Homo sapiens: one gene and its partners. The protein of the gene in region 3 interacts with the protein of the main gene of each other region in a pairwise test. Each region holds a gene or a part of one and is shown on either strand. Other genes may lie near its edges. The genes, in order: NAPA, STXBP5L, SNAP23, FXR2, PHF20L1 and ABI3.

What was found.
Region 1: the proteins of SNAP23 (region 3) and NAPA interact in binary tests that used the Homo sapiens proteins (3 or more experiments, as listed by UniProt).
Region 2: the proteins of SNAP23 (region 3) and STXBP5L interact in a two-hybrid assay, tested with the Homo sapiens proteins (one study listed by IntAct).
Region 4: the proteins of SNAP23 (region 3) and FXR2 interact in a two-hybrid assay, tested with the Homo sapiens proteins (one large-scale study listed by BioGRID and IntAct).
Region 5: the proteins of SNAP23 (region 3) and PHF20L1 interact in a two-hybrid assay, tested with the Homo sapiens proteins (one study listed by IntAct).
Region 6: the proteins of SNAP23 (region 3) and ABI3 interact in a two-hybrid assay, tested with the Homo sapiens proteins (one large-scale study listed by BioGRID and IntAct).

Annotation. Positions count from the first base shown.
Region 1 is NC_000019.10:47,490,326-47,495,502, reverse strand, and holds part of NAPA (alpha-soluble NSF attachment protein), read left to right. Parts: intron 1-358; exon of another isoform or gene 359-475; intron 476-1,901; exon of another isoform or gene 1,902-2,009; coding exon 2,010-2,087; intron 2,088-2,328; coding exon 2,329-2,384; intron 2,385-2,457; coding exon 2,458-2,542; intron 2,543-3,383; coding exon 3,384-3,488; intron 3,489-4,646; coding exon 4,647-4,715; intron 4,716-5,177. UniProt on the Homo sapiens protein: Required for vesicular transport between the endoplasmic reticulum and the Golgi apparatus. Together with GNA12 promotes CDH5 localization to plasma membrane.
Region 2 is NC_000003.12:120,910,409-120,915,585, reverse strand, and holds part of STXBP5L (syntaxin-binding protein 5-like), read right to left. Parts: intron 1-5,177. UniProt on the Homo sapiens protein: Plays a role in vesicle trafficking and exocytosis inhibition.
Region 3 is NC_000015.10:42,515,230-42,520,406, forward strand, and holds part of SNAP23 (synaptosomal-associated protein 23), read left to right. Parts: intron 1-7; coding exon 8-125; intron 126-5,177. UniProt on the Homo sapiens protein: Essential component of the high affinity receptor for the general membrane fusion machinery and an important regulator of transport vesicle docking and fusion.
Region 4 is NC_000017.11:7,604,220-7,609,396, forward strand, and holds part of FXR2 (RNA-binding protein FXR2), read right to left. Parts: intron 1,931-5,177; coding exon 1,878-1,930; intron 1,520-1,877; coding exon 1,426-1,519; intron 1-1,425. UniProt on the Homo sapiens protein: mRNA-binding protein that acts as a regulator of mRNAs translation and/or stability, and which is required for adult hippocampal neurogenesis. Specifically binds to AU-rich elements (AREs) in the 3'-UTR of target mRNAs.
Region 5 is NC_000008.11:132,843,913-132,849,089, forward strand, and holds the end of PHF20L1 (PHD finger protein 20-like protein 1), read left to right. Parts: intron 1-240; coding exon of another isoform or gene 241-243; coding exon 244-406; intron 407-1,868; coding exon 1,869-2,011; 3' UTR 2,012-4,895; downstream 4,896-5,177.
Region 6 is NC_000017.11:49,217,207-49,220,706, forward strand, and holds part of ABI3 (ABI gene family member 3), read left to right. Parts: intron 1-532; coding exon 533-709; intron 710-2,333; coding exon 2,334-2,419; intron 2,420-2,651; coding exon 2,652-2,747; intron 2,748-2,962; coding exon 2,963-3,120; intron 3,121-3,500. UniProt on the Homo sapiens protein: May inhibit tumor metastasis. In vitro, reduces cell motility.

The DNA of each region.
Region 1 (5,177 bases), on a different chromosome or scaffold from region 3:
CCCCAGCCTTGCGTCCCCTCTTTCAGCACCCCCAGCACTGTTCTTATTCTGCGGCCAAACCACTTGGGGAGGGGGAAGTGGGAGCTGGGGGGATTAGGTCACCTGAGCTGGCCTGGGCTGGCTGGGTCTTCACCCAGCTCCCCACCAGCCTGACGGCCCCCTCACTCCACAGGCAGTCATGGTTTTCATTCATAGAACTTAGGTTATTGAGCTGGGCAGGGTGGCTCATGCCTGTAATCCTGGCATGTTGGGAGGCTGAGGTGGGAGGATCTTTTGGGCACAGGAGTTCGAGACCAGCCTGGGCAACATAGCAAGACCTCCTCTCTACAACAAATTAGCCTGGTGTAGTGGCATGCACCTGGGGTCCTAGTTCTTGGGAGGTTGAGGCAGGAAAATCGCTTGAGTCCAGGAAGTTGAGGCTGCAGTGAGCTGTGATCACACCACTGCACTCCAGCGTAGGCGACAAAACAAGACCCTGTCTCAAAACAAAAAAAGAAATTAGGTTACTGGAGAGTGTGTGTCCGGCACTTCCCCTTGCCCAGCCTTCCCGCAAGTGTCACATTTGATAAGCATCTTGCAGCAGGCCACAGGGATAGGCAGAGCCCACAGGAGGCTCAGCACCTGCCCTGCCCCCAGGGCGCGTTGCCAACGACAGATGCAGACCAGATGGGCAGCTGCCAACTGGAGCCAGAGTGAAGGGTCCCACCCAGGCCGGGGCTCCTGTCAGTGCTTTCTCTCTCTCTCTTTTTTTTTTTTTTTTTTTTTTTGAGACAGAGTTTCTCTCTCATCTAGGCTGGAGTTCAGTGGCGTGATCTCCACTCACTGCAACCTCTGCCTCCCAGGTTCAAGCGATTCTCGTGCCCTAGCCTCTCGAGTAGCTGGGATTACAGGCGTGTGCTACCATGCCTGGCTAATTTTTGTATTTTCAGTAGAGATGTGGTTTCACCATGTTGGCCAGGCTGGTCTCAGACTCCTGACCTCAAGTGATCCACCTGCCTTGGCCTCCCAAAGTGCTGGGATTGCAGGCATGAGCCACCGTGCCTGGCCAGCTCCTTTTTGCCTCTCCGCTTGCCCTGTCTGTCTCAGCCCTCCAACCCCAGGCAGGGACACGAGCCCTACCCCTTGCGTTCAGGGCAGTGCTGCAGGGATGACTGTGATTAGAACAATAATAGCAGCTGCCATTTATTAGGCCAGACACTGCAGGGTGGTTTAATCCACAGCCCTGTGAGGTTGGCATTATTGTCATCCCCGTTCCTTAGTGGAGGAGAGGGGCTCAGACAAGTGACATGATTTGCCCAGGGACATGTGGCTACAAGCAGGAGTCACTGAGACCCGAAACAAGGTCTGGCTGAGCCCAGGGCCTTGCCCTTTCCTACTGCCCTCAGCAAGGGGGTGGCGTTGGACCAGCCCCTGGTGCAGAGCAGTTAGGCAAGCGCCTGGACACTGGGTGGAGGCGGATGGAAGGTGCGAGGCCCCTTGGAACCTGAGGCCTCCCTGGGGAGCTCTGGGTGTGCCTGGGGGAGGCTGACAGATAGGTGTTGGCCTGGGGGCAGAGCTGGTACTCTTGGGCAGAGGTCTCAAGCCCTCCCTCCCATCCTGGTTTCTCCAGAGCCCTTTGCCAAGTGGCTCTGGACTGGTCCTTCCGCCTCTCTGGCTGTTATCAGAGGCTTCCTAAGGGCCAGGGCCTTGGCCAAGTGCTCGTGCTCACATTCTCTCTGGTGTCACACCATCTGTGCCCTCGTGGATGGGATGGAATTAGGCTAAGGCCCTGGAGTGGCTTGTCCAACATCACCCGCTCAGCCCAGCACGCATAGCCAGGCCTCTAGTGCTGGGGCCCTCCCTTCTCACTCCTGTGTTCCCCCACCTCTCGATCTTCTTCACACCTCAGGTCTTCTTCATACCTCCTCACAGGCGTGGCTGAGGGGTGGGAACTTGAAGGGTCATAGGTCAGCAGGCAGGCACGCAGGAGGTCATGAGTCGCAGGCAGCCCCTTCCTGTGTCCCCTCCAGGGCCGATTCACGATTGCGGCCAAGCACCACATCTCCATTGCTGAGATCTATGAGACAGAGTTGGTGGACATCGAGAAGGTGAGTGGCAGCAGGGCCCTGCATGGGCTGGCAGCCAGGACCAGTGCTGCTCTCTCTTCTTCCCACCAGGGGAGTCCTCTGGTGTCTGAGTGCCGAGAAGGGGGCATGGGGCGCCGGCAGAGCTTGGAGAATGGGGTCTGGCTGTGTCCCAGGCAGGCAGGGCGGAGGGTGTGGAAGCTTCACGGAGGCCTCCTCTCCCTTCCCTGCCCTCCCCTGGAACCCATCCCCCGTGTCTCCCCAGGCCATTGCCCACTACGAGCAGTCTGCAGACTACTACAAAGGCGAGGAGTCCAACAGGTAGCCCCCTTCCTGCCTGCCCCAGCCCCGCAGGGACCGCCACCACTTCCCCTCACTACTCCTCCCCACACAGCTCAGCCAACAAGTGTCTGCTGAAGGTGGCTGGTTACGCTGCGCTGCTGGAGCAGTATCAGAAGGCCATTGACATCTACGAACAGGTGGGGACAGGTGGGGATGGCGGCTTCCACCCTGCCCCCTCTCAGGGCCTGTGCCTCCTCCTAAGCCCCGGCACCTTGTTCTGGAACCACCCCTCCCCCGGCTCACCCTCTGCCTCTCCCCCGACATCCCTTGCCATGTCATCCCCCCACCCTGTCTTCAGCCTGGCTGAATGTTCTCCACCTACGACTCCATGCCGTGCCAGCACCGTCTCTCTCCCTGGCTGTGCCCCTCCCACACCCCTCGCAGAGCTTCCTGGAGGGGCCCAGAGTGAGGCTGGCTAAAGAACCCAGAGGGAGGGAATGGGAAGAAGTGCCAAGAGGCCCAGGGTGGCCGTGGGCACCCCACCCCATGGCCCGATGGTCCTCATCCACAGTGGGAGGGAGGGAGTGTCACATGGGGTCCCCCCAGCGTGCACGGAGCCCTGGGTGATGGCCGAGAAAAAGGCAGGCAGCTGGCCCCCTGGGAGAGAGGGGCGGGCGCCGCCTCTCATGTTCCCACCGCCTGCCGCCGCTCTGCCCACCGCCATGCCAGCCTCCCGTTGGTCCTGACAGCCAGGCTGCCTCCTTCCCACTGTCTCAGGCTCTCAGAAGGCCCACGAACACCTGGCTACAGCCTCCACCCCCACCCAGCCACCATCACACCCTGATCTTGGTCGCTCACGCACTGGCCGCTGACCTCTCCAAGCTGGTCCCTGGCTCCCTGCCCTTGGGGTCCTGGGTTAACAGGGCCTCACCTCGGGACATGAACCAGCTCCCAGCTGGCCCCCCAGTGCCTGGCAGTGGCTCTGGCCCTCTGGCTGCTTGCCCTGAGCTCACCAGTGCCACTTCTCCATGGCTACAGGTGGGGACCAATGCCATGGACAGCCCCCTCCTCAAGTACAGCGCCAAAGACTACTTCTTCAAGGCGGCCCTCTGCCACTTCTGCATCGACATGCTCAACGCCAAGGTAGCACACCCCACGCCCGCAGGACCACCGCACCAGGCCACCATGTGCTTATCTCCAGGCCAGGTCCCGTTGCCCCCGAAGAGGGACGTGCTCCTCCCTCACGTCTGGCCCCTGCCAGCCAGCCTTTGGATGAGAAGTGTGGTTCTCACAGCTGTGTTTCTGTGCTGGCATCACCTGCCCACCCAGCCCTGGAGGCTTTTGCGGGTCCAGCTCCTGCCTCACTTAGTGCTCTTTCCTTCATGGGTGCACTTTTTGAATCCTCACTGCACCCCATTAAAGTCAGCACCATTGTCACCGCGTCTTATGGGTGAAGATGGTGAGGCTGGGACGAGAGTCCCTTGTTTGAGGCCACATGACTAGGGACCTGCAGCCCCAGTGTTCCAGATCTTTGTGACTCCTGCTGTCGTGGCTTTAGCTGTAGCTCACACATGCCCACCTATTTTCAGGACACTTGGCAAAAGAGGGGCCAAAGAGGGCAGTGGGAGGGGGCGTGGCCAGCGGGAAGGAGCTGGAGGGTTGGCGCTAGATTTTGCTTGGCCGGAGTTTTTTTACCATTGCCTGGCAGAAGCACGGAGTCCAGGATTTCCTGGTGTCCCTGGCTCACGGCCTGGGGTGGTGGCCCCACACACCCCACACACACACACCCCACAGAGCCCTGCCCTGCTGTGGGCACCGGTGGTGGGCAAAAGCTTGGGCTTTGTCAGACCAGGTTCCCATTCCCACCCCATGTCTCACCGTGCCCTGGGCAGGTCACTGCCCCTCTCTGGATCTGTTTCCTCACTTTGAAAAGGGGGCTCACCGTCATTTGACCCTCTCAGGGTCCTCAAGAAGCACCAGCCCCAGGCCTGGCATGGAGGATGTGCTCATTTGTCCCCTGCCCCAGCTGAGCCAGGTGGGAGGAGGCAGTGGGTGCCTATCTGGGGAACCTTCCCCCTCCACCCACCTCTCCCTGCAGCCATCTCTGCAGCCAGGCTGGTGCTGAGCTCAGCTACGGGAAGGTACTGACAGACACAGAGCCAGGTGACACCTGAGGCTGGGGGAGGGGTGCAAGAGCTGACTCAATATCACCCGACATCCCCAAGTCCCCTCAGCTGCTAGGCCAGTAGCTCTGAGGACCCTCTTGTTACTAACTCATCTTCTCCCTTCCCTGCTGCCCAGCTGGCTGTCCAAAAGTATGAGGAGCTGTTCCCAGCTTTCTCTGATTCCCGGGAATGCAAGTTGATGAAAGTAAGTGCTGGGTGCTCCGGCCTCCCCCTTCCCGAACCTCAGACGGGGGTGGCTGGGGCTCCAGGTGGGACAATCGCCAAGACTTGTCCAGTAGTTCTCAGAGGGTGTCTTTGTTTTGTTTTGTTTTGTTTTGTTTTGTTTGGCCATTTGAGTCTCCATTTTCCAGATGAAGAAAGTACAACTCGGGGAGTGCTGGAGCTCAGGATGGCTAGGTGGACACACACACACACACTACACACACCACACCACACCACACACACCAAACATACACTACACACACCACACCACACACATCACACCACACCACACACACCAAACATACACTACACACACCACACCACACACATCACACCACACCACACACATCACACCACACGCTACACACACACCACCCCACACACCCCACACACACTACACACACACCACACACAGCAAACACATCACACACCACACATATCGCAC
Region 2 (5,177 bases), on a different chromosome or scaffold from region 3:
AAATAACTGTCACTATAAACAAAAGCATTTTTATAAAGATCATCATTTTGATACTTAAGTAGGAACAAAAAGTTCCATTTTTCTCTTATGAGAAAAACAAACTCAATTTGAAAGTTTAAAGCAGGGCTTCTACTTGATACTTTTAATGGATATAGTCAAAAGTCATTGCTATTAAACCAATATGTAAGTGGCTTTACAGAACTATAATACAGGAAATCAGTACAATCATCCTATTATTAAAAGTAAATATGAACTTAATCCTGAGATTTTTCACAGGAACATCGTCAAATGAGGCTAGAGAAATATCTACAGAAATGCACTAAATTTTAAGAAACAGAAATTTCGTTTACTTAGTGATAATACTCCTACAGAAAAACATACTTGGAAATTATGTTAAGATTTTAACTTAGCTCTGTATGTATGAGAAATACAAAAAGTATGACGGCACTGTTTGTTTTTAAGAACATTTAAGAACCACCACACTATACAAGACCAACAACCCAATTTGCTGACAAATACTAGCACCAAAGGACTTTTTGTGAGAAAATGTGATTGCCCTCTAGGTAACTTTAAAATTTTACAAACGTACTTCTACACATCTATAATCCTTTACTCAAGCCTGCCCCTACACCCTTATGCTCTCAGGATAAGCAAAGCAGACAGCCTGGAGTACTGAGTCATCTGGCTTTGGTTTCTGGTTCTTAAAAGAAAAAAAAATCTTTAATTCTTTCTGGTTATTACGCTTGTTAGCATCTTAGTCTTAATGGTAGATTAATTCTTCCTTGCCTCCATTACCATTCTTAAAGATGCCTCTACTGTGCTTTTTGGTGACAGGAGAATGTAACAAATCCACACATCTCAGGGAATCTTCTATTATTCTTTTTATGGATGAAAACTTTATAACTGTGGAACTGTGATCATGATCTTTTCCCAATCTCAGTTGCAAAACCGCTTAAGTAAAATGGAGTGAAATTAGGAGAATGTGGAGACAATGAAAATCTTGAGGAAGAGATAGTATTCAAGGATATCTGGGCATTTAATCTCCTTTCATCTTGCTAGGGTCCTGGAAAGCCCAACTCTCTACAGTTCATGCCTGTATTTCTGATCTATACCTATTTACCTGGTACGATCTGATATTATGTCAGATATGAGCATCATTGTTATAAATCCATTTCCCTGCAGAAGTTATACTAGTTAACTACATGTTGTTTCTGACATTGTGACCATTTATAAAAACAGTTTATAAATGATTATGAATAGTGAGTTGGCTAATTTAAGAGTTTATTCAGAAATTTAGGGATTATGTCATCTGGTTCTGGTAATATACTTATTTTACTCTTTTTTTGGTAATATACTTATTTTTATCTTTTGTTAATTAGGTCTAGAACACCCTGTGTGTTTGTCACTGTCAATCTAGAACTTCTGAGTTGTTCCCCCAAAAAGATCATTTAAAAATGAGAATGTTCCTAATATCTTCTTCAATAAAAACTGAAATAAATTTAATTAAATCCTCCTACAATCTTCTTTTCTACATCTGTTTGAAAAGCATATACCATGTTCCTAAAGTGGTATCAACTCTTTCACTAGATGCTCTCCACCTCTTTATATAAAAGTTATTTCATAAAAGCAACTCCAAGAAGCTGTTCAAAATAATATCTAGTTTGCTTTTAACACAACAATCTGTATAGCTTCCCTCCTTTAATTTATTCATTTATTTGCTCAACAAATATTTGACTGCCTTCAATGGGCCAGGCACCATTCTATACATAGATGATACAGATGTGAACAAAATAAAGCCTTGCTTTATACATATCACTGTATATATAATCTAGAAGGACTTGACACTTGGTTTGCTTCAAAAGCATGTAATTTCTTACTCTGCTTTAAATAAACCAAAACTGAAAGTTGTAGATATGAATTTGGAAAGGTTTATGGAAGAGAAGTCCACACAGAACTCCAATCACAGAACCAACATTCAACAGAAAAACGTAGTCATTTATCAAATGATTTGTAAATTGTATATTTAGATGTTTTCAATTAAAATAAAATGTTTAAGGCATATATAAGTAGTAATTGCTCTCTGCTTTAATATCTTTTTCAATTAATCGACCAATCATGTATATGCATCTTTACTCATTTAAAGTGTATCAAGTGCCCACTATAATGGTTTTCACTAATGGCTGTGCATAGAAATCTCCTGTGGGGCCATTCAAAAAAATGCAAGTGCCTAGGACTCATCCCTAGAGATTTTGATTCTCTAAGAATGGGGAGGTGCTGGAAATCTCTATTTTAGACACCAGAGTTAAGAAATACTGGCCAGCTAGATAGTGTATACCCTAGCAATAAGAAGGAAACAAGAAAAAAAAATTATTTGCTTTTCAAAGAGTTCATAGTATAACGGCAGTGACAGATTTTTAAGAAACTTTTTTAATCACAGGAAGATGCTAAATTCACACTATAGGTATATGCCAGATGCTACAGAAAAACATAGAATAGGTTTTTAAAAAAGAAAAAAAAGAACCCTGGTGGGTAGTTGAGGTGGCAGTGGTCAGAGCTAGTCTCATAGAGGTGATGTTTGAATTATGAGGTAAAAGATGGCTGGGAATTATCCAATCGTATGAAAGTAGAAAAGGTATTCTAGTCAGAAACGAAAGAATGAGAGAAGGCATTGAGATATGAGAAAATATGGTATCTTTTAGGGAATGCAGTATACTTAGGGAATCAAGCAAATAAAAATGGAAAGGTAAACAGGAATCTCTTCTGAAGGAAACTCTATACCCATCAAGGTAAGCAATTTGAAATTTATTTTATAGAGCAATAGTTTCAAATTGTATTTCACAGAATTCAAGTTCAGGAAAGGCAGTTCATGTATTTCACAAATACCTGGACAATGCAGGCATTCCAATGTATACACATTCTGAACGATTGCAGTAACCCAATGCATTAACTTTTTTTTTTTTTTGGCTGACCTTGAACCAAAGTTTCTTCTGCCATTTCTATGACTTTGAACATCTCATAGATATTTTGTTTATTATGAAGGGTACAGCTTTATACTTTCACTTTTTTAAGGCTAGCGAACATCCTACTACCTTCCTATGGGCGATATTACACAATAAAAAACAAATATAAAAAGTTTTTTTATCAATTGGCTGTATAATTTATTCTTATAATTTCTGAAACAAATGTGTGCCCATGAGTTGCCACATTTTTTTGTTTGAATAGATGTTATTTACTGTGGTTTCAAATAAGACTTTCATTTTAAGAGCATCATTGCTGTAGGAAACCAATATAGAATTTTTAGCAAGGAAATGACATAATTAACATTGTATTTCAGAAATAGCCATTATTGTAACAAAATGAAGTGTAATCCAGTAAAACTAGAAGTAAAGAGATCAGTTAGAAAGTGATTTCAAAAGACCAAGCAAGAAAATATGACGGAACGAACAAGTACTGGGGATGTAGAAAAGGTCATAAATTTCAGAAATACTAAGGAAATAGAATAGAGGGGATGTGATGACTAATCAGATAGAAGAGAGGAGGCTTTCAAACAGCCAAGTCTAGATTTATACTTTAGTTTTGCCCATGTTGAAAAGGTAGAAGCACCCAGAATATGACAGCTCCTTAGAACTCAGAAGAGAAATTTTTTTGCACATTTAATCAGGGAGTCTATGAGTCTAAATAAAGTCCCCATTTCAGTAACGGTCTAATTTTGGGATTTCCTTAGTCCATTTTTATATGTTTTGTTATAGACCAGGTAATTATAATACATCCATATAACTATTTTTTAAAATTAACTATATTCCTATCCAAAGATGTTACAGTATTTTCCACATTTAGTAAGACTTCAGTACTGTTAGTGGACAACTTATATAGCTATCTATCTTATAATTTATTTGGAAATCATAAGCTAATATTATTATAACCCACTAGTTATATTCGCTCTACTATGAACACGTGATTTTACAAACTTTAACAATAATATTCGTATATATTTTATCATCCTTTCCATTTATGCATTACCTTCACCTTATTCTGTCTGATCCTCCCAATAACCGTCTCTTAGTTAAGGAGAGCAGATACACTTATTCCTACACTGCAGATGCAGAAATCAAGGCTCAAGGGAGATAAATGGCTTACCCAAGAGTATATGGCTGTCAACTAGCAGAACTTTAAATAAAACACAAATTTTCTGATTCCTAGGCCAGTGCTCTTCCTACCATGCCATATGTTTTTAAAGTAGTATGTATTTAACTTCTGGTACTTCCTATGACTATCTCTTGCCTGAATAAATGGGAAGATAACTATGTATTCCATTATCTCTTGCATTCACCCATTTCCCTGAAGTTTTTTATTTAAAACCTTCTCTACAAGCTTTATGACCTCAACAGCCCAATGCCATTCTGTTTCAGAAGTCTATCTTTCCTATACCAGTTTTACCTCTGGTAAAATTCTCCTGTATCACTGTCATATACATGAATTGAGAGAATTTGGAAAAAATTTTCAGAATCTGATCGTGAAAATTGCAAACACATCAAAGATTAGAGAATCAGGGCATAATTCCCCTGCCTAGCAGTTCAAATTTGAACTCCAGGACTCTTTTACATTTGTCTCATAACCACTGTTAAGACCTTCCCTCATCGAACAGAATATCTGTTATTTCCTATTGAGGAAAAAAATTATTACTGTACACAAATTTCACAAAGTAGCTTAGAATTAAATCTGTTTATCTAAATTAACTCTAAATAAACTTGCTTTTATGTAAACTAATAACTATAGATTTAATGTTTTTATAATGACCCTGCTAGGAATATAGGCTGAGACAGTGATTGAAATATACCTCATTATACATATATCACTTGTTTACCACAAATATAATTTTAATAATTTCAAAAAACTTTTCTTTTGTGAAAGTATTTTTAAAAATTGTTAATTTCTGTAATTTTGCAATTTTTCTATTTCTTATGTAGCCAAACACATTTACAAAACTATATTCATTTATATGACATAAATAACTTAGTAGCCTTTGTTGCATATAATAGGCACATTCCAAGACAACTCAAAAAAGGGCAATAAAATTATAAATCACTTTATGTCATAAAATATAACAAATATAGCAATAACAATATCTCTATGCATTAACCTAATGCTTGTTTTATAAACTCTCATCTTCTCTACCT
Region 3 (5,177 bases):
TTCTTAGAACAACTAAACCGCATAGAAGAAGGCTTGGACCAAATAAATAAGGACATGAGAGAGACAGAGAAGACTTTAACAGAACTCAACAAATGCTGTGGCCTTTGTGTCTGCCCATGTAATAGGTGAGTTGATAAATTAAGATGGTTTCAAAATAAGTAATGAGAGTACCCCACCTTCTCCCACCAGCTAAGGTCAGAAGTATGACTGGGCTTAATGAGGAACTCTATTAGATAAATCTAAGTTGTCTCTCCTTCAGGCAGATTAAGCTTTTTGTGTAAATACTGCGTGTTCACTGAAAACTGTGACTTACATTTGACCAATCCTGGGATCAAGTCCAATTTCAATTTGTAGTAATACATGAAAAGGTTAGGAAGTATAGGGAAATGTATATCTGGATGATGGAAAGCAGGATGGAGTTATTTTCTTTTCCTTTCAAAGGAGGAGTATTAACAAAATATATATTTTGTGGTAGGCACATGAGGGATGGCCAAAAGAGTAGAAGAGTTGGGAAAGAATGGCAAAACATAAAAAATACATAAATCTAATGTTAGATTATATGATAGTGAGCAAGGCTAAATCTAATGTTAGATTATATGATAGTGACCAAGGCTAGGTATACAGAACTGATAAAGGTTGGGTTGGAGAGCATCTTATAGAAGAGGTAGGATGTGGATTGGGCTTTGAGTGATAAGAAGGATTTGGATGAACAGGGAGGAACAGTGAGGGCATTTCCTATGAAAGGTTCAAAATAAAGATTAACAAGGAGCTTGACTTAACTGAGCTGTGTGACTCATGTAGATGAGAAGTGGAAAGTAAGATATAAGTAGGTAGTAGAGGAACTTGAATGCCAAACTAAGGAGTTGACAGATTGGAGTGGAGTATAAAAAGAAACGACAGTATCTGGAGATTGAATGACTGTACTCACTGCTGAAAGTTTTGTTTTGTTTTTTTTCTGAGACAGGGTCTCTGTTACTGAGGCTGGAATGCAGTGGCGTGATCACAGCTCACTGCAGCCTCTCTTTCCTGGGCACAAGAGATCCTCCCACCTTGGCCTCCCAAAGTGCTAGGATTACAGGCATGAGCCACTGCACACAGCCAAAGTATCCTTTTTTTTTTGAGACGGAGTCTCACTCTGTTACCAGGCTGGAATGCAGTGGCGCAGTCTCAGCTCACTGCAACCTCCGTCTCCTGGGTTCAAGTGATTTCTCCTGCCTCAGCCTCCCGAGTAGCTGGGACTACAGGCGCATGCCACCACACCCAGCTAATTTTTGTATTTTTAGTAGAGACGGGGTTTCACTATGTTGGCCAGGATGGTCTTGATCTCTTGACCTCATGATCCGCCCGCCTTAACCTCCTCAAGTGCTGGGATTACAGGTGTGAGCCACCACACCCGGCCTCAATGTATTCATTTTTAAAGAGGTTCTTAGACATTAATATTTCATCCAGTTCTCAGCTGGTCTTGTAAACCAACAGCGGTTATATTTTTATATTTTCAGTAAGTGTTTTTATGAAACAACATTTTTATGCCATTTCTGTTATAGAAAGTAGAGATTAATTGCTTGTCAGTCAACTTTAGTGTTTGTTTTGGCCATGAGGAAAGGTTTGACAGTGTTCTTCCTAGTCTTATCCATTGGCTTCCTATTCTAACACAAGTCTGTTGACCTGTTTACACCTTGGTTGACCAACTGAAAGTTCTGTATTTTTTGAGACGGAGTCTCGCTCTGTCACCCAGGCTGGAGTGCAGTGGTGTGATCTCGGCTCACTGCAACTTCCACCTCACGGGTTCAAGTGATTCTCCTGCCTCAGCCTCCCAAGTAGCTGGGATTACAAATATGTGCCACCATACTCAGCTAATTTTTATATTTTTAGTAGAGACAGGGTTTCGCCGTGTTGGCCAGGCTGGTCTCAAACTCCTAACCTCAGGTGATCTGCCCGCCTCTGCCTCCCAAAGTGCGGGGATTACATGCGTGAGCCACTGCTCCCGGCCAAAAGTTCATATTTTAATAACTATGACTTGTCAATCAGAGTTTAGCAGATTACTTTAAGCAAACAAGTTAAAATGTACAGATTATTTGATACAAACTCTTAGCTATGTTTTACAAACATAATTGTACCTTTCTCTTGTGTTCCATGTACCTTCTTGGAAGAGTACAGAAGAGAGGAAGTAGATGAATTTTCTTGAGATCAGATGTTAGGAGAACAAGGAGAAAGAAGTCTCCCCTAAAATCTTAGAGGAAGATCAGCTCTAAGTCACGTGTTGATAAATAGGAAGAGCACTGAATTAGACCTAAGATGGTCTAATATCATAGAAAGTGGGAAATGCAGCTACAGAGTATTAATTTTATGTCTCTTTGTGTATCCCAGCCAAGCATAGGCAAGCTTTTCTTGAAGACTGGTGGGAAACAAGGTAGGGTATGGTCCTGAATCAGCATTCTTCAGCCTCTAACCTCAGTAGAACCCTTTCTCAGTGGATCAAGAGAAGGCATTACTTTTTTAGAGATGGCCTCTCCCTCTGTCTCCCGGGCTTGAATGCAGTGGTGCCACCATAGCTCACTGTAGCCTCAAACATCTGGGCTCAAGCAATCCACCCACATCAGCCTCCCAAGTAGCTAGGATTACAGGTGTGTGCCACCATGCCCAGCTAATTTTTGAAATTTTTTGTAGAGACAGGGGTCTTGCTATGTTGCCCAGGCTTGTATCAAACTCCTGGCCTCAAGAAATCCTCCCACTTCAGCCTCCCAAAGCACTGGGATTACAGGCTTAAGCCACTGCACCCAACTGGCACTTCTTTCTTTTTTTTTTTCTGGCACTTCTTGAGAGATGGAATCAAGGGGCTGCTGTAACAAAACAGTTCCCTTAAGAGAAGAAAGTATTATCTCAGTTAAAGATGTCTGATTGTAATTGTCTTTCTTCCACCTATTTCTTTCTTACACCATTGAGACCTTGGCCAGTATGATATCTCTTATCCTCAGCTCTGTTCCTATCATTCTTGCCTGTGTCTTGATCTTTCTAATCTGCTAGTCTGTGTTTCAGTTAGGCTCGTCACATGAATAACCATAACATGAGCTTCTTAAAGGTAGACATGAGATCTTAGTCCTATGTGTAAGGCCTAGTCTTCATACCAGCAGTAGCAGTAACAACCCAGGTCAGGTCCAGAGTTCCTTATTTGCCATTTGGAAATACTTTTTCTTTTCTTTCTCTTTTTTTTTTTTTTTTTTCTCGAGACAGGGTCTCGCTCTGTTACCCAGGCTGGAGTGCAGTGGCAGTCATGGCTCACTGCAGCCTCAACCTATCCTCCAGCGTCAGCCTCCTGAGTAGCTGGGATTACAGGCACATGCCACCACACCCAGCTAATTTTGTATCTTTTGTAGAGACAAGGTTTCACCATGTTGGCCAGGCTGGTCTTGAACCCTTGGGCTCAGGCAGTCTACCCACCTTGGCCTCCAGAAGTGCTGGGATTGCAGGCATGAGCCATTAAGCCCTGCTGGCCATTCAGAAATCTAAAAAACTCCTAAAGTTTTGTTTTATTTTTGCTGTAATGGTGCCACAACTCATTAGGGTATAAAATGTAACCTGAACTGAAGCTATGTTTAGTCTTTATTACTTGCTGTAGATATTAATTGGTTTCACTACAGAAATACTCTTTTTGAGTCAGGGTCTCACTCTGTCACCCAGGTTGGAGTACAGTGGTATGATCTTGGCTCACTGCAGCCTCGACCTCCTAGGTTCAAGTGATCCCCCCACCTCAGCCTCATGAGTAGCTGGGACTACAGGTGCATGTCACCATGCCTGGTTTGTTTTTAAAAACTTTTGTTTCTTCTTCTTTTTTTTTTTTTTTTTGAGACGGAGTCTCACTCTGTTGCCCAGGCTAGAGTGCAGTGATGCAGTCTCAGTTCACTGCAACCTCTGCCTCCTAGGTTCAACCGATTCTCCTGCCTCAGCCTCCCAAATAGCTGGGATTACTGGTGCCTGCCACCACGCCCAGCTAATTTTTGTATTTTTAGTAGAGATGGGGGTTCACCATGTTGGCCAGGCTGGTCTTGAACTCCTGACCTCAGGTGATCCGCCTGCCTCGGCCTCCCAAAGTGCTGGGATTACAAGCATGAGCCACCATGCCTGACCCTGTTTCTTTTCTTTTCTTTTTCTTTTTTTTTTTTGAGACAGAGTTTTACGTTGTCACCCAGACTGGAGTGCAGTGGTACAATCTCGGCTCACTGCAACCTTCGCTTCCTGGGTTCAATCGATTCTCATGCCTCAACCACCCAAGTAGCTGGGATTAGAGGCATGCACCAACACCTTGCTAACTAATGTATTTTTAGTAGAGACGGGGTTTTGCCATGTTGGCCAGGATGGTCTTGAACTCCTGACCTCAAGTGATCCACCCACCTCGGCCTCCCAACGTGCTGGGGTTACAGGCATGAGCCACCGTACCTGGACTTTAAAAAGTTTTTGTAGAGATGAGTTCTCACTATGTTGCTCAGGCTGGTCTCAAACTCCTAAGCTCAAGCAATCCTCCCACATTGGCCTCCCAAAGTGCTGGTATTACAGAAATGAGCCACCACACGCAACGTCACTACAGAAATATTAATGTATTTAATTATGTGGTACTGTCCAAAACATCTTGCCCCCAATGGATTGGGGTAACAGTTGTGGGCCTGTGCATTAATTTAAGGTACTATTCTGAACATGTTAATTTAATCCTTAAACAGTAGCCTTAATATGAGATAGATGTTTTTTATTATTATCATTTTACATCCAGGCTACACTATGTAGTGGAAGAGCTGGGATTCAAAACCAGGCAGAACCCCCTTGCTTTTTTTTTTTTTTTTTTTTTTTTGAGACAGAGTCTTGCTGTATCACCAGGCTGGAGTACAGTGGTGTGATCTCAGCTCACTGCAACCCCTGCCTCCCAGGTTCAAGTGATTCTGCTGCCTCAGCCTCCCGAGTAGCTGGGATTACAGGCGTGCACCACCACGCCTGGCTAATTTTTGTATTTTTAGTAGAGATGAGGTTTCACCATGTTGGTCAGGCTGGTCTCGAACTCCTGACCACGTGATCCATCCACCTCGGCCTCCCAAAGTGCTGGGATTACAGGCGTGAGCCACCGCGCACAGCCCACAAATCCTTTTTTAAAATCACATATCTTAGGCAGTAATTGATAAATTGTAATTCTA
Region 4 (5,177 bases), on a different chromosome or scaffold from region 3:
CCAGGAGTTCAAGACCAGCTTGGGCAACATAAACAATAGAACAACCATTAAGATATTTGGGGCTGCTGGGCACAGTGGCTCAAGCTTATAATCCCAGCACTTTGGAAGGCCAAGGTGGGAGGATCTCTTGAGCTCAGGAGTTCAAGAACGATCTGGGCAACACAGTGAGACCCCACTTCCACGAAAAAAAAAGAGGCCAAGCGCGGTGGCTTATGCCCATAATCCCAGGACTTTGGCTGAGGTGGGCTGATCACCTGAAGTCAGGAGTTCAAGACCAGCCTGGCCAACATGGTAAAACCCCACCTCTACTAAAAATACAAAAATTAGCCGGGTGTGGTGCCACATGCCTGTACTCCAAGCTACACAGGAGGCTGAGGCAGGAGAATCACTTGAACCAGGAGGTGGAGGTTGCAGTGAGCTGAGACCGCGCCACTGCACTCCAGCTTGGGCAACAGAGTGAGACTTCATCTCAAAAAGAAAAAAAAGGTATTTGGGATGCATCTTTTTTTTTTTTTTTTTGAGACAGAGTTTCGCTCTTGGTGCTCAGGCTGGAGTGCAATGGCACAATCTCAGCTCACTGCAACCTCCACTTCCTGGGTTCAAGCGATTCTCCTGCCTCAGCCTCCCAAGTAGCTGGGATTATAGGCGCCCGCCACCACGCCCAGCTAATTTTTTGTATTTTTAGTAGAGATGGGGTTTCATCATGTTGGCCAGGCTGGTCTTGAACTCCTGACCTCAGGTGATCTGCCCCACTCGACCTCTCAAAGTGCTGGGATTTCAGGTGTGAGCCACTGCATCCAGCCTGGGATGTATCTTAAACCAAGGATACAAGAAACCAGAGGAAGGAACTAATTAAAATCAGAGGACGGCAGGGCATGGTGGCTCATGCCTGTAATCCCAGCACTTTGGGAAGCTGAGGCGGGTGGATCACCTGAAGTCAGAAATTCAAGACTAGCCTGGCCAACATGGTGAAACCATGTCTTTACAAAAATGCAAAAATTACCCGAGCATGATGGCAGGTGCTTGTAATCCCAGCTACTTGGGAGGCTGAGGTGGAAGAATTGCTTGAACCCAAGAGGCGGAGGTTGCAGTTAGCTGAGATCGCGCCACTGCACTCCAGCCTGGGCAACAGAGCAAGACTCCATCTCAAAACAACAACAACAACAACAACAAAAAAATCAGAGGGCACTGGATTTTAGATGTTGTTACCATAAATGGAAGGCAAATCGCCTGAAACTGGGGATGTTCCTGAGAGTTTGGCTGATCACAACAGTGATAAAAGGGGAACTGTTGCATTTTACATTTCCATAGGCTACATGGCTGGATATGGCTTAGTTGGGGAGGAAGGAACATGAACCAACCAGAGAAAAGCCTAGAATCCTGGGGAAAAGTGACATTTAGAAAGGTGTACTCCACAGCCCTTACCTCCACTTCATCCCCTTCTGTGATCTCCTTATTATAGTCAGCTGGAGGTGGTAGCCGGACATCCCCAAAAGGAATTTGTCTCTCACTCTGCCAGCTATAATAGAAACAATAATATGAAAAAGCTACTCTGACTGATATGGTTGCCCATTTCTTTACAAAAGGGTTATTGCCTCAGCTGGGCGAGTTCCACCTATCTGGATAATTAGAGGCTAAACCCCAGGCCCTGCTCCATAGTAGTGTCTTCCATCTCTTTCTAGACTCTAAATACTGGGTCAAATGCCCCCACCCTCACCAAATTCTCAGCCCTTTCCTCTCCTGGGATCCATATGAGTTCCCACCCAAACCCTCAGCTCTCCCAACCTATTACATGCCTCATAGGACTCAGCTGCCCCCTCTTCTCCACTCTCCTTCTAGGACCTAGTATGCTGGATTCTCTATTCCCAAGGTCTTACTTGTTTTCAAAGAAGATGGTGACAGAGTCTTCATGGACATCCTTCACAAAGCCCTAGAATGGATTTTAGAAAAAAGCAAAAAAAATAAAATGACCTTTTACTTCCACCTTAGCCATCAAGGGAATAAGACACCACAAAACCTTAAACTTGAGTTTTAGATAGGGACACAAGTGGTGTAATGAGACAGCCTGAAAGGCTGCACTGGGGAAAGAATATGGGCAGTCAAACAGAGAAAGGAAATGATATTGTCATGGAGAGGTGTATGTACCACCTGCATCAGAACAGCCTGGAAACCAATGATCTACTCAGGCTCCCACAGGGGCCTCCCTATCTGTCTGCCTCCTGTTGTGCTAAGCAGCCTGCCAGAGTTCAATTAAAATACCAACAACATTCAGCAAGGCTAAGAATATCCCATGAGACAGTGTGAGGCTGTCCTGGAACACCTAGAGGACATGAGGATCTGTCGAGAGAGAAGGGCCTACCTCCGCAATACAGCAAGAGATCTGAGCAGACTCGCTGCCCTGATGCATGGGTCCTAAGACAATAATCGGAACACTAGACAAGTTCAAAATTGTGATGAACACAATTTACAGAAGGAAAAATTAAGACTTAATTTAAAAACATCGGTTTTTTAATACTAGAATTGAATCTAGAATGACACTGATAATTTATAAAGGATAATAAAATTTATGGAAGACTCCAATCTTGATATTTTGACAAGAGCAAGAGGGATGACTGAACAGCTGATCCACCTCCTGTGGTCTGTGTCCTCACTAAGGAGGCCAAAGCCATGCATTCACCCCTATGCTCCCAATTTTTCTACCTTCTCCCTATTTTTCACATACAATTAGGGATTTCTAATTTTGAAAAAGGTCTAGCTTATGAATTTATTATTTTATCAACTGTGCTTTTGGTTTCATATCTAAGAAATCTTTGCCCAGGCCAGGCACAGTGGCTCACGCCTATAATCCCAGCACTTTGGGAGGACGAGGCAGGCAGATCACCTGAGGTCAGGAGTTCGAGACCAGCCTGCCAACATGGTGAAACCCCGTCTCTACTAAAAATACAAAAATTAGCCAGGTGTGGTGGTGCATGTCTGTAATCCCAGCTATTTGGGAGGCTGAGGAAAGAGAATCACTTGAACCTGAGAGTCAGAGGTTGCAGTGAGCCAAGATCATGCCATTGCACTCCAGCCTGGGCAACAAGAGCAAAACTCCATCTCAAAAAAAAAAAAAAGAAAAAGAAAAAGAAATCTTTGCCTAATCCAAGGCCACAAAGGTTTTCTCTTATGTCTTCTTCTTAAACTTTTAGTTTTTTGTTTTACATTTACATCTATAATCCTTTATTTTTAGACAGAGTCTCACTCTGTCACCCAGGCTGGAGTGTAATGGCGCAATCTTGGCCCACTGCAACCTCCACCCCCCGGGTTCAAGCAATTCTCCTGCCTCAGCCTCACGAGTAGCTGAGATTACAGGCAACCGCCACCACACCAGGCTAATTTTTTATATTTTTAGTAGAGACGGGGTTTCACCATCTTGGCCAGGTTGGTCTCGAACTCCTGACCTCAGGTGATCCATCTGCCTCAGCCTCCCAAAGCTGGAATTAAAGATGTGAGCCACTGTGCCCAGCCTATGATCCATTTTGAATTAAATTTTATATATAAGGTGAGGTATTGATCAATGTTTTTTAAATTTTTAAATTCTTATTTATTTTTTTGAGACAGAGTTTCGCTCTTGTTGCCCACGCTGGAGTGCAATGGTGCAACCTTGGCTCACCGCAACCTCCGCCTCCCAGGTTCAAGCAATTCTGCCTCAGCCTCCCAAGTAGCTGGGATTACAGGCATGGGCCACGACCCTGGCTAATTCTGTATTTTTAAGAGAGACAGGGTTTCTCCATGTTCGTCAGACTGGTCTCAAACTCCCGACCTCTGGTGATCCACCCGCCTCAGCCTCCCAAAGTGCTGGGATTACAGGTATGAACCATCGCACCAGGCCACTTTTTTTTATTTTTAATATATTTTTAAATTAAAATTTTTTTTTAATAGAGACAGGGTTTCGCTATGTTGCCCAGGCTGGTCTTGAACTCCTGGACTCAAGCAATGCACCCGCCTTAGCCTCCAAGAATGTTGGAATTACAGGTGTGACCACTGTGCCCAGCCCATTTTTTACCTAAAGATATCTTGTTCCAGCACTGTCTGTTGAAGACTATCCTTTCTGGCCAGGGGCGGTAGCACACGCCTGTAATCCCAACACTGGGAGGCCGAGGCTGGCAGATCAGCTGAGGCCATGAGTTCGAGACTAGTCTGGCCAATATGGCAAAATCCCATTGCTACTAAAAAAAAAAAAAAATAATAATAATAATAATATATAAATTAGCCAGGCGTGGTGGCACATGGCTGTAACCTCAGTTATTCAGGGTGGCTGAGGCATGAAAATCACTTGAAGCCAGGAGTTAGAGACTGCAGTCAGTCAAGATCATGCCATCGCACTGCAGCCTGGACAACAGGGCAAACTCTGCCTCAAAAAAAAAAAAAGAAGAAAAGAAGAAAAGAAAAGACAAGACTATCCTTTCTTAGCTGAATTGAACTGCCTTTTCATTTCTATCGAAAATCAGGAAGGGCAATTTAATGTATAATGACAGAAGATTGGTAGTTGATGGAGGACTTTTGGGAGTGACAGAAATGTTCATTCCTTTGATTGCAGTGATGGACTCAGTTACATACATGTCAAAACTTAACAAATGGCACACTTTAAATATGTCTACTTTGTTGTATGTCAATTTCAGCTCAATAAAGATGTTTTTTAAAAAAATTAGAGAGCCCATACAACACAGGGAAACCTCATCTCTGCAAAAAATTTATAAATTAGCAGGGTATGATGGCTTGTGCCTGTAGTCCCAGCTATTTAGGAGGCTAAGGTGGGAGGATCACTTGAGCCAGGGAGGTCGAGGCTGTGATGAGCTGTGATTGCACCACTGCACTCCATAGCTTGGGCAACACAGCAAGACCGTGACTCAAAAAACAAAATAAATAAACAAAAATAAAAGAATTAGAGGTTTCAAAAGGCTAATACACAAGAACTATTCATGAGCTTTGCTGCTAGGGACAAAGGCTAAGCTTAGGAGAGAAAACACCAAAAATGCCCTTGGCAAATGCACAGCTCCCACCTCATAGAACTAATCAATCACAAACACTTACCAGATTGCTATTTCCTTACGATGGGAAAATCTAAGCCTGCATTTCACTCTTCATACAAGCCACCTTTCTCGTCTTTAGGGATATGTCTTGCTATAGAGGCTGCA
Region 5 (5,177 bases), on a different chromosome or scaffold from region 3:
TGAAGCCTTCTTGCCTGTGTAGCACCATGCGAGGCATAGTGGAGGGAGGTGGTGGGTGCATCAGCTCTTAAGAACCACCAGCTGGAATTTGGTTATGTAGCAGTACTTCTTTAAAGATACCCCTGGAGTCAGATTGGATCTCACTAACTGTTACCAGTGATGAGGTGTTTCCTGTATCCTTAACTCAATGACTGCATTTCATCCCGTTCTTTGTGTTTATTTTCCAATGGTCCTTTGGAGAAGAATCCAGCTGAAGGGAATACAGTATTTGTTTATAATGATAAAAAGGGCACCGAAGACCCAGGAGACTCACATCTTCAGTGGCAGCTCAATCTCCTTACACACATAGAAAATGTGCAGAACGAAGTTACCAGCAGGATGGACCTAATAGAAAAAGAAGTCGATGGTAATTTAAGAAAGAACTAAAATACAGTTACTATAGTGAATTTATTGTTACTATGAAGAAGTTACTTAAAATTCTTAAATTATGGGATGAAAACTGCAGATACTCTCCATACCGATGGGGCTTTATTACTCCCTTTGTATTGTATTTAACACATTTGGGATCTTTTACGCTTAAAACAATGTGACCGGGTATGACCTTAGGTTGTTTTTACTTTTTTAAGGTGGATATTTATTAAATACTGTCTATTTGCCAGGCTCCAGATAGATCACTTATGGAATAAATTGATTAGTTTCATTGAACTAAGCTTTCTTTGGAAGTCAACATAAGGAATTTAAGCATGTTTGAAATGTGAAAACATTTTGAATATTTTTTACTTTGGTTAGCACTTGTTAAATTAACAAAAACTTCTACAAAGTTAAGTAGGTAAACCTTAAGTGGTTTTCTTTTATATTTTAAAATTGTGTCATCACACAGGAGGCCTGAAAAGTGGGCAAGAAAGATACTATCACTACTTTATAGTTGAGAAACTAGAGTAACTTAGACTACCTGATTCTCAGTCCATGTTGTTCTTAATGCTTTCTGACTCCTGTTTCTTCCTAACATCATAGACGATATTCTGCACCCCAACTTTACTTTTTTTAATTTGGCATAAGCACGTGATACCTCTCCTCTACACTAAGTTAGAGCTCCTACTCCTTTTTTTCCCCCTTGAGAGAAGAAGAGAGAAAATGGAAACCCATTTTAGAAGCCTCTTCCATCTGGGTATAAGCTAACTGTAGAGTTAATGTGATGTTTTGAGTCCATGTTTGAAGAAAAGAAAATGCATCTTGATACTATTTCATATTATTAGGGTAGATTTCCAAAGGAAACATTAATAAAAACTATAGAATATAATCAATTGCATTCTGCCTACAATTTTAATACGCTTGCATGTCTTTTAAAAAGTAGTGTTAAAATAGTGGAACTGAAAAGAACACTGAGAAATTGCTACTTCCTTTTCTTTGTTAAGAAGAGCTTCTGGATTAAAAAATATGATTAGGTATGTTTTATGTAGAGATGACGAGTCTAAATTAATAGAAAGCTTGAGCAAACATAGGGAACTGTTGTTATCTTATTCCAGAAGTGAGTAAAAGGAGACCTTCAAAATGAAGTTAGTGTGTGTATATGTTTATGTGTGTGTGTATATGTATTTTCCCCCTTATATATAAAAATACATAATTCCTATATATATAAAGGGGAAAATTATCTTAAATGACAGATAAAAATTGCCAAGAGGGACTAGAACTCTGTGGGGTGGGATGACAGGACGCTAACCTCTCGGAAATGTCTTGAGTATGTTGGCCTTCTAAAGATGGGGAAGTGAACCCTTAACTCCATCACAGCTCCAACTTTCTGATTGTTTCATTTTCTGACTGTTCTTCCAGTTGCAGTTTAAATTTGTTTATCTTCTTCTCTCTTTTAGTTCTGGAAAGCTGGCTTGATTTCACAGGGGAGTTGGAGCCACCAGATCCTCTTGCAAGATTGCCCCAACTTAAACGCCACATAAAACAGCTCCTAATTGACATGGGCAAAGTACAGCAGATAGCAACTCTTTGCTCTGTATGACAACAGTGAACACTTAATGAAAGAATGTGGCTTTCTTCAGTCAAAGCATTTTTATTATCCACGTGATGGCTAAGTGGATAATTTAAAAGCTTAGTAATGTCTGGTCATTCACTGATTTGTGATGTCAATAGGATGGCACCTTGGAAAGAAAAATGAAGAACAACTTTATCAAGGAAGCTAGTATTTAAAAACAAATTCATGAGCAAGCTGCAAATGAGAATGTGTTATATGCCAAGGAACAATGAAGTAGAATATAATGTATACTAAGGGATTTCAAGTTCTCAGAATTTTTGAGTAGTTGCTTACGTGAAGCTCAAGATACCTGTAGAAAGAAATATGGTATATTTGTATAGTTTTTAATAGAAAGATCTATGTTTATAAACCAGCACTTGGCCAAAAACAAAATTGTAAAGGAAATTTAAATTCTGGAGAATTCTACAGGGTTGCTCTAAGAACTGTCTTCTCAGCAGTTGATCCAGCTGTACGGAAATTTAGGGTATTTAAACTTTTAAAGGATCATGAGCTGTTTCTTGGGCGATGAATGTTCTCAATCAGAAAACTGACAGTAGAAATCTCACTTCTGGGGAAAACAGTTGTGGAATTCTTACTTCATTATGAATGTATTTAAAAAACAAACACCAAATAATTGGAATATATTGCAGGCATTAAGCTCATTAAAAACAAACTGGCTTGCAGAAGGGTCCGATGTGCCAAGTGATCATGATTCTGCTGGAAAGAGGATTTTAAATATTGTGGGAGTTCTCCCACCCTAAGTCTTACATAATGCCACCAGTCCATCCAAAACCTATATATCACCTATACTATATATATCATATATATAGTTGAATGGCAGTATTCAGGCTCAACGTACAGTTTGATCCTGAGTATGCTTGGTGTTTGCCTTCAGAAAAAAAAAAATACATTGTAAATAACCTCAGCTGGGATGAGGAGTGACAGAATATCAAAATAATTTGTGGCTGTGGATTTTTTTAACTGCTAGTAGTGGAATACTGGAAAAGCTTCATTTCTGAAGATGAATTTTATTTTTAAAAAATACATGCACACTCAAAACTTTTAGCTTTGATCACAAGTGGACAAATTTCTGAAACCAAAGGCAACTAAGTTGCTGTGTTAGCTCTTGCTGGATTTTGAGCCTAGGTCCTACTGTCTGCCAGTACTCATGTGAGTTGTATGTGCCCCCAGTGCTACATACGCAGGTATGCGTAAGTGTGTATGCTTGTTTTAAACAAACACTCAACGTACATATGTACATAATCTACACATATTTATATCACATATCTAGTTTTATTACTATAGACTATACGAATTGGTGGTTAACATGAAATGTTACCTTTTAACAGACTGTTTTTAAAAATTAAAAATGTATGTATAGGTTTTGAAATTTTTTTAAAAGGGGAGAAAGACTGTTAAGAGGAGGCTATTTGATGACATAACACTTGAATATTTTATGCCTCATTCTGTTTATCAGTTCTCGCAATCTGTATAAATGCATTTTAGAACTGATAGACAGTAAACTTGAATTTATCTTTGATAAGAATACATGCCACTGTACATTCAGATATTATTTAAATTTGCAAACACATTGTTCTATATGTAAGGGTACTGTATGTAAAACTCTGTATTAAAACTATTCCACATATCCTAAAATTTCAGCTTGCCTTTTTGCGGCCTTATATTTTGATGTAAAGATTAAAAGAATGTGCAAAACAGTCAGAAATTTTTATTGCCTTTTGAGATTCTCCAACTTGACAAATGTGCCAAAGATCAACAGACAGAAAATATCATCCTGTGTATTTACTTGTCATACTTTAACTTTGTGAAAGATCTTACTGATAAATGAAAAGCTTTAGCAGAGGTGGTATTGTGGGGTAATTGCTTAAATTTACATATCAAAGTAAAAAAGTAGTGCCTGTATTCCATGTGTGGAGTAAATTTGCTAATGTCTATATTTTATGATTGATACTATTATTTTTCCTTTGCATTTTAAAATAGTGGCTCTAATATTTTCCCTGTCATGGCTACATTCTAGACATTGAATTTATATCTTCTTTTTTTCAGATACGGAGCAAATAGCATCCTTAACCTATGAATAATGGTGTTGCCTAGATTCTTGTCACACACACAGAAGACCCTTTGTACCTAGTAACATTCATCCTCTTGATTCCTGGTGAACACGGTTAAATTCATGCACATTTGTTCTTGTAGTTTCTAAAAATTAGATCAATTTATTTGTTAGCCAGCAAATTGAAAATTCCATTATTAGATTAATGAAATTTTTGCTCTGCTTATATGTATACGAACTGGAAATCTGAATTTTTAAATTTAGATCTTTAAATCAAATTATTTTTATGCATATTTTCATTTAATATAGAGTATACCAATCGATTGAAGCCTTTCACAAGTAGTGCGCTGAGCTTTTCTTATTGAAGAGAGTGAATTAGTTTCTGAGAAGTCAGTCTATTGTGAAAAGTTTCAGATGAGATTATTTTCTTTTAGTCTTTTTAAATATCACTATATGTATTTAAATAGAAGCAATAAACTAGAGAGAGTGTTTCTTGAAAAGACAATGTTTTATTTGCCACCAGGCAGAACAGAATGAGCATTGGTAGAGAAGGCTCCCTCTTGGTATGTTACTGATAAACTTGTACTTCCTCATACTTGTTTGTGGTTCTACTGACTTATTTCCAAACTTAAGAGTAATGTACTTCGAAAACAACTTGGTTATTCTTTAAATTTCAGGTAAAACCCCTTTTCCTAACACTCATCTTATTTCCACTGTCTTATTTCCTCTCAGATGTTCATATTTCACATGTTCAAAATGAAGCGTACTATTTCCCCTCCAATAAACGAAGTCTCCTGCCAACTTCACTGTCTCTGTTAATAACGTTACCCTAAGAGTTCAGGCTTCAAACACCGAGTCCTCCCTCATATCCATATCATTAAAACAGATAATATTGTCTTCTTACTTCTGAATCCTACTGAAGGTCCAACATTTTTTATAAAATAATGTCATGAAGATACTACCACTGGCCTCTGAAACTGTAACTTTGCCTTTATTCTAATTCATCACAATTGTCACTGCCACACTGTTCCATCCATTGCACATGTTCCATGCATTGTACATGTTACCTGCAGTATCTAATTT
Region 6 (3,500 bases), on a different chromosome or scaffold from region 3:
ACATTTGGCCTGGCCTGTACATCACCCACATGTTCAGTGGGTGGGGTGTGTCTTTTCCTCCCCCGCCGCAGACCAGAGTTCCCACCCTTTCGAACTGTAGGCTTTCTCCATGGAACATTCTGAGAGGAAGTCAATTTACTTATTTGTCCCCCAAAGGGGAGAGCTGATCCAGCCACCATTCTCTGCCACCTCCATATTCTCCCCCTCTGCTCCGAAGTCAGCCGGGTGCTTGTCTCCTCCCAGCATCCCTAGGGATGTTGTGTTTTCTCTTTTCCTCCTGTTCCTGCACAGCTAATAATAACCCATACTCTCTTTCCACCAGGAAGTTGCTCCAAAGTGGCTCCATCCTTTCCTGCTACTTTTCCCAATTGCTATGTAGCCTGGTGGGGGGCGGGGGGCGGGGGGCAGGGCCCTCTTTTTCTAGACCTGGCTGCCTCCCCCCCCCAGCCCAGTCTTTATCTTCTTCCTCCTTAGGGGGAAGGGTGCTGGACACAGACCACCCCTCTCTGTCACCTTGAACCCTGTCATGCAGATGGTGAACATGCATATGGAGAAGGTGGCCCGAAGGGAGATCGGCACCTTAGCCACTGTCCAGCGGCTGCCCCCCGGCCAGAAGGTCATCGCCCCAGAGAACCTACCCCCTCTCACGCCCTACTGCAGGAGACCCCTCAACTTTGGCTGCCTGGACGACATTGGCCATGGGATCAAGGTAGAGAGAGGGGCCCTCCTCTTTCCCTCCAACCCACCCTCTCGTGCCTTGTGGCCCCTTTCCCTCCAGAACCCCAGTTCTGCAAGTTTTGTCCCCACTTGCCACTCCTTTCTTTCCCCGCTCCCTGAAACCACCACTCTGAGCTCTTCTCCCTCTCCCTAGATTTTGTAATCCCTCCCTCCAAAACTGGTCTGTACCATCCTCGGAGGATCTGCTGAGTGTGAGATCCTGAGCACCCCTCGCCCCCCCGCCCTGCCCCTGTGGGCACCGGGCGTGTGGGAAGGGGAAGAGGGGGAAGGGAGGATGTCAGGGTGTGCATGAGAATGGCTCCCAGCCACATGAGAACAGCAACTTCCTCTGTCTGGGGGTTTGAGGTCACTGCACTGAGCAGTCACCCCAGAGCTGCTGTTGGTGAGAAGAAGCGGGGATACAGCCACACAAAGGGGACTTGGTGAAGGGAGGGGAGCATGGCGCTGGCGTCTTCTCAGCCTATGTCCTTCTGCGAGGTCAGAAAGGGCACGCACTCACACCCGTCCCACCTTCAATTCCTGTCTCCACACCTTAACATTTCTGTATCAAAATGAGCCCCTTGATATCCTTAACTTATCAGCCCCCCTTAAAGGGGAAACGACATTCTCCCCTTCAACCACCAGGCCTCCTTCCCACCAGTAGTTCTCTGTTGTCCAACTTATATTTTTTTTTTTTGAGATGGAGTTTCGCTCTTGTTGTCCAGGTTGGAGTGCAATGGCACGATCTTGGCTCACTGCAACTTCCGCCTCCCAGGTTCAAGTGATTCTCCTGCCTCAGCCTCCCAAGTAGCTGGGATTACAGGCGCCCGCCACCATGCCCGGCTAATTTTTTTTTTTTTTTTTTGTATTTTTAGTAGAGATAGGGTTTCTCCATGGTGGCCAGGCTGGTCTTGAACTCCTGAACTCAGGTGATCCTCTTGCCTGAGCCACCCAAAGTTCTGGGATTACAGGTGTGAGCCACCACTCGCGGCCCAACTTATATTCTTTGTGCTTCAGCTCAAATCTCTTTTGTCTTGCCCCTGGTGAAGCCCATGGGGTAACACTGTACCCACCCCTTGGGGAAGTCCCATTGGTAACAGCAGTTCCCTCTTTCATGTAGGCGTGCACCCTGTCATTTGCGCATCCCCTCTAAGTGGCCTGGGTCTTGCTCCTCTCTGCCCTAACTCCCCAAAGCCAGTTCCACAAATCTTCGAAAATGAAAGGTGGGACACTTCTAAGTGTGATGTGTCCTCTCCTTTCTCCGCCCCCTCCTCAGCCCGATCAAAGTTAGGGACCACCAAGCCAGGGCCCCAGCTTCCTGGGCTCTGAGATGGTCTGGGGGAGGGACAGGGGTGCTGGGCCCACTCAACCCGCTGTGGCTGTGCAGAGGAAGTGGCTGTGGGCTTTGGTAGAACTGAGTCCCAGAACCCAGGCAATGACAAGGGGGTGGGGTGGGGGAAGTGTAGGAGAGGGGCCTGAGAAGTGGAAGTGGGAACTGGCTATGCCGGGCTCTCCCTCCCGGTTCCCGTCCGCCCCTCCTCCATTTCCTCTTGGGGATGAGGGTGGAGGGAGGCCCCTCACCCCAAATGTAAGCCCTACCTCCCGCTCCCTCGCAGGACCTCAGCACGCAGCTGTCAAGAACAGGCACCCTGTCTCGAAAGAGCATCAAGGCCCCTGCCACACCCGCCTCCGCCACCTTGGGGTGAGGCCTCGCCGCGACGCCAACTAGCCTAGCCCTGCCCCGCGCGACCCTGAAACTCTCCTCCCCCAGCCTCGCCACCCACCCCTGGCGCCCCCGGGTGCTCAGGCCGTCATGCTGGATGCCTGGCGCCAAACCTCCCCCTCGGCCACCTGCCCTTCCTGCTCGCACCCGACCCCTGCTGGCCAGAAGCCTTCCTCCTTCCTCCTAATACCCACTCCCTGCCCCCCGCCAGGAGACCACCCCGGATTCCCGAGCCAGTGCACCTGCCGGTGGTGCCCGACGGCAGACTCTCCGCCGCCTCCTCTGCGTTTTCCCTGGCCTCGGCCGGGTGAGACCTACAAGCCCACGTGGGTGGGTGGGGGGTGGGAAGTGGCTTTTGAGAGGGGCCACCTGCCAGTGGTCATAGTGACTCCTGGGCTTGAAAGGACCCAGTTACTCCTGGGTCACACGTGCAGGGCTGGGGTCAGGATTGGAGGGGTGGGGCCAGTTGGGGATGCTGCATTAGGGAAGGCGTGTCCGCCAACCGGGCTCTCTGGTGTTCAGCAGCGCCGAAGGTGTCGGTGGGGCCCCCACGCCCAAGGGGCAGGCAGCACCTCCAGCCCCACCTCTCCCCAGCTCCTTGGACCCACCTCCTCCACCAGCAGCCGTCGAGGTGTTCCAGCGGCCTCCCACGCTGGAGGAGTTGTCCCCACCCCCACCGGGTAAGGAGGTCCACCCTCTTCTTCCCAACCGTGGGGTCGCTTTTCTGCCTCCTGCCACTCCCCAGCCCACCTCTCTTGGATCTGCCCCGGCCAGCCTCAGTGAATGCCTCCTCCAAGGAGCGCAGCACAGGGGCGAAAGGAGACAGAGGAAGTGAACTAACATAACTTAGCGCCTGCTGTATACCAGACCCTGTGTTCGAAGATTCTCATCCATTTTCTCATTTGAACTTAATCCTGGCCGGGCGCGGTGGCTCACCCCTGTAATCCCAGCAGTTTGGGTGGCCGAGGCGCGCGGATCACCTGAGGTCGGGAGTTCGAGACCAGCCTGACCAAAATGGAGAAATCCGGTCTCTACTAAAAATACAAAATTGACCGGGCGT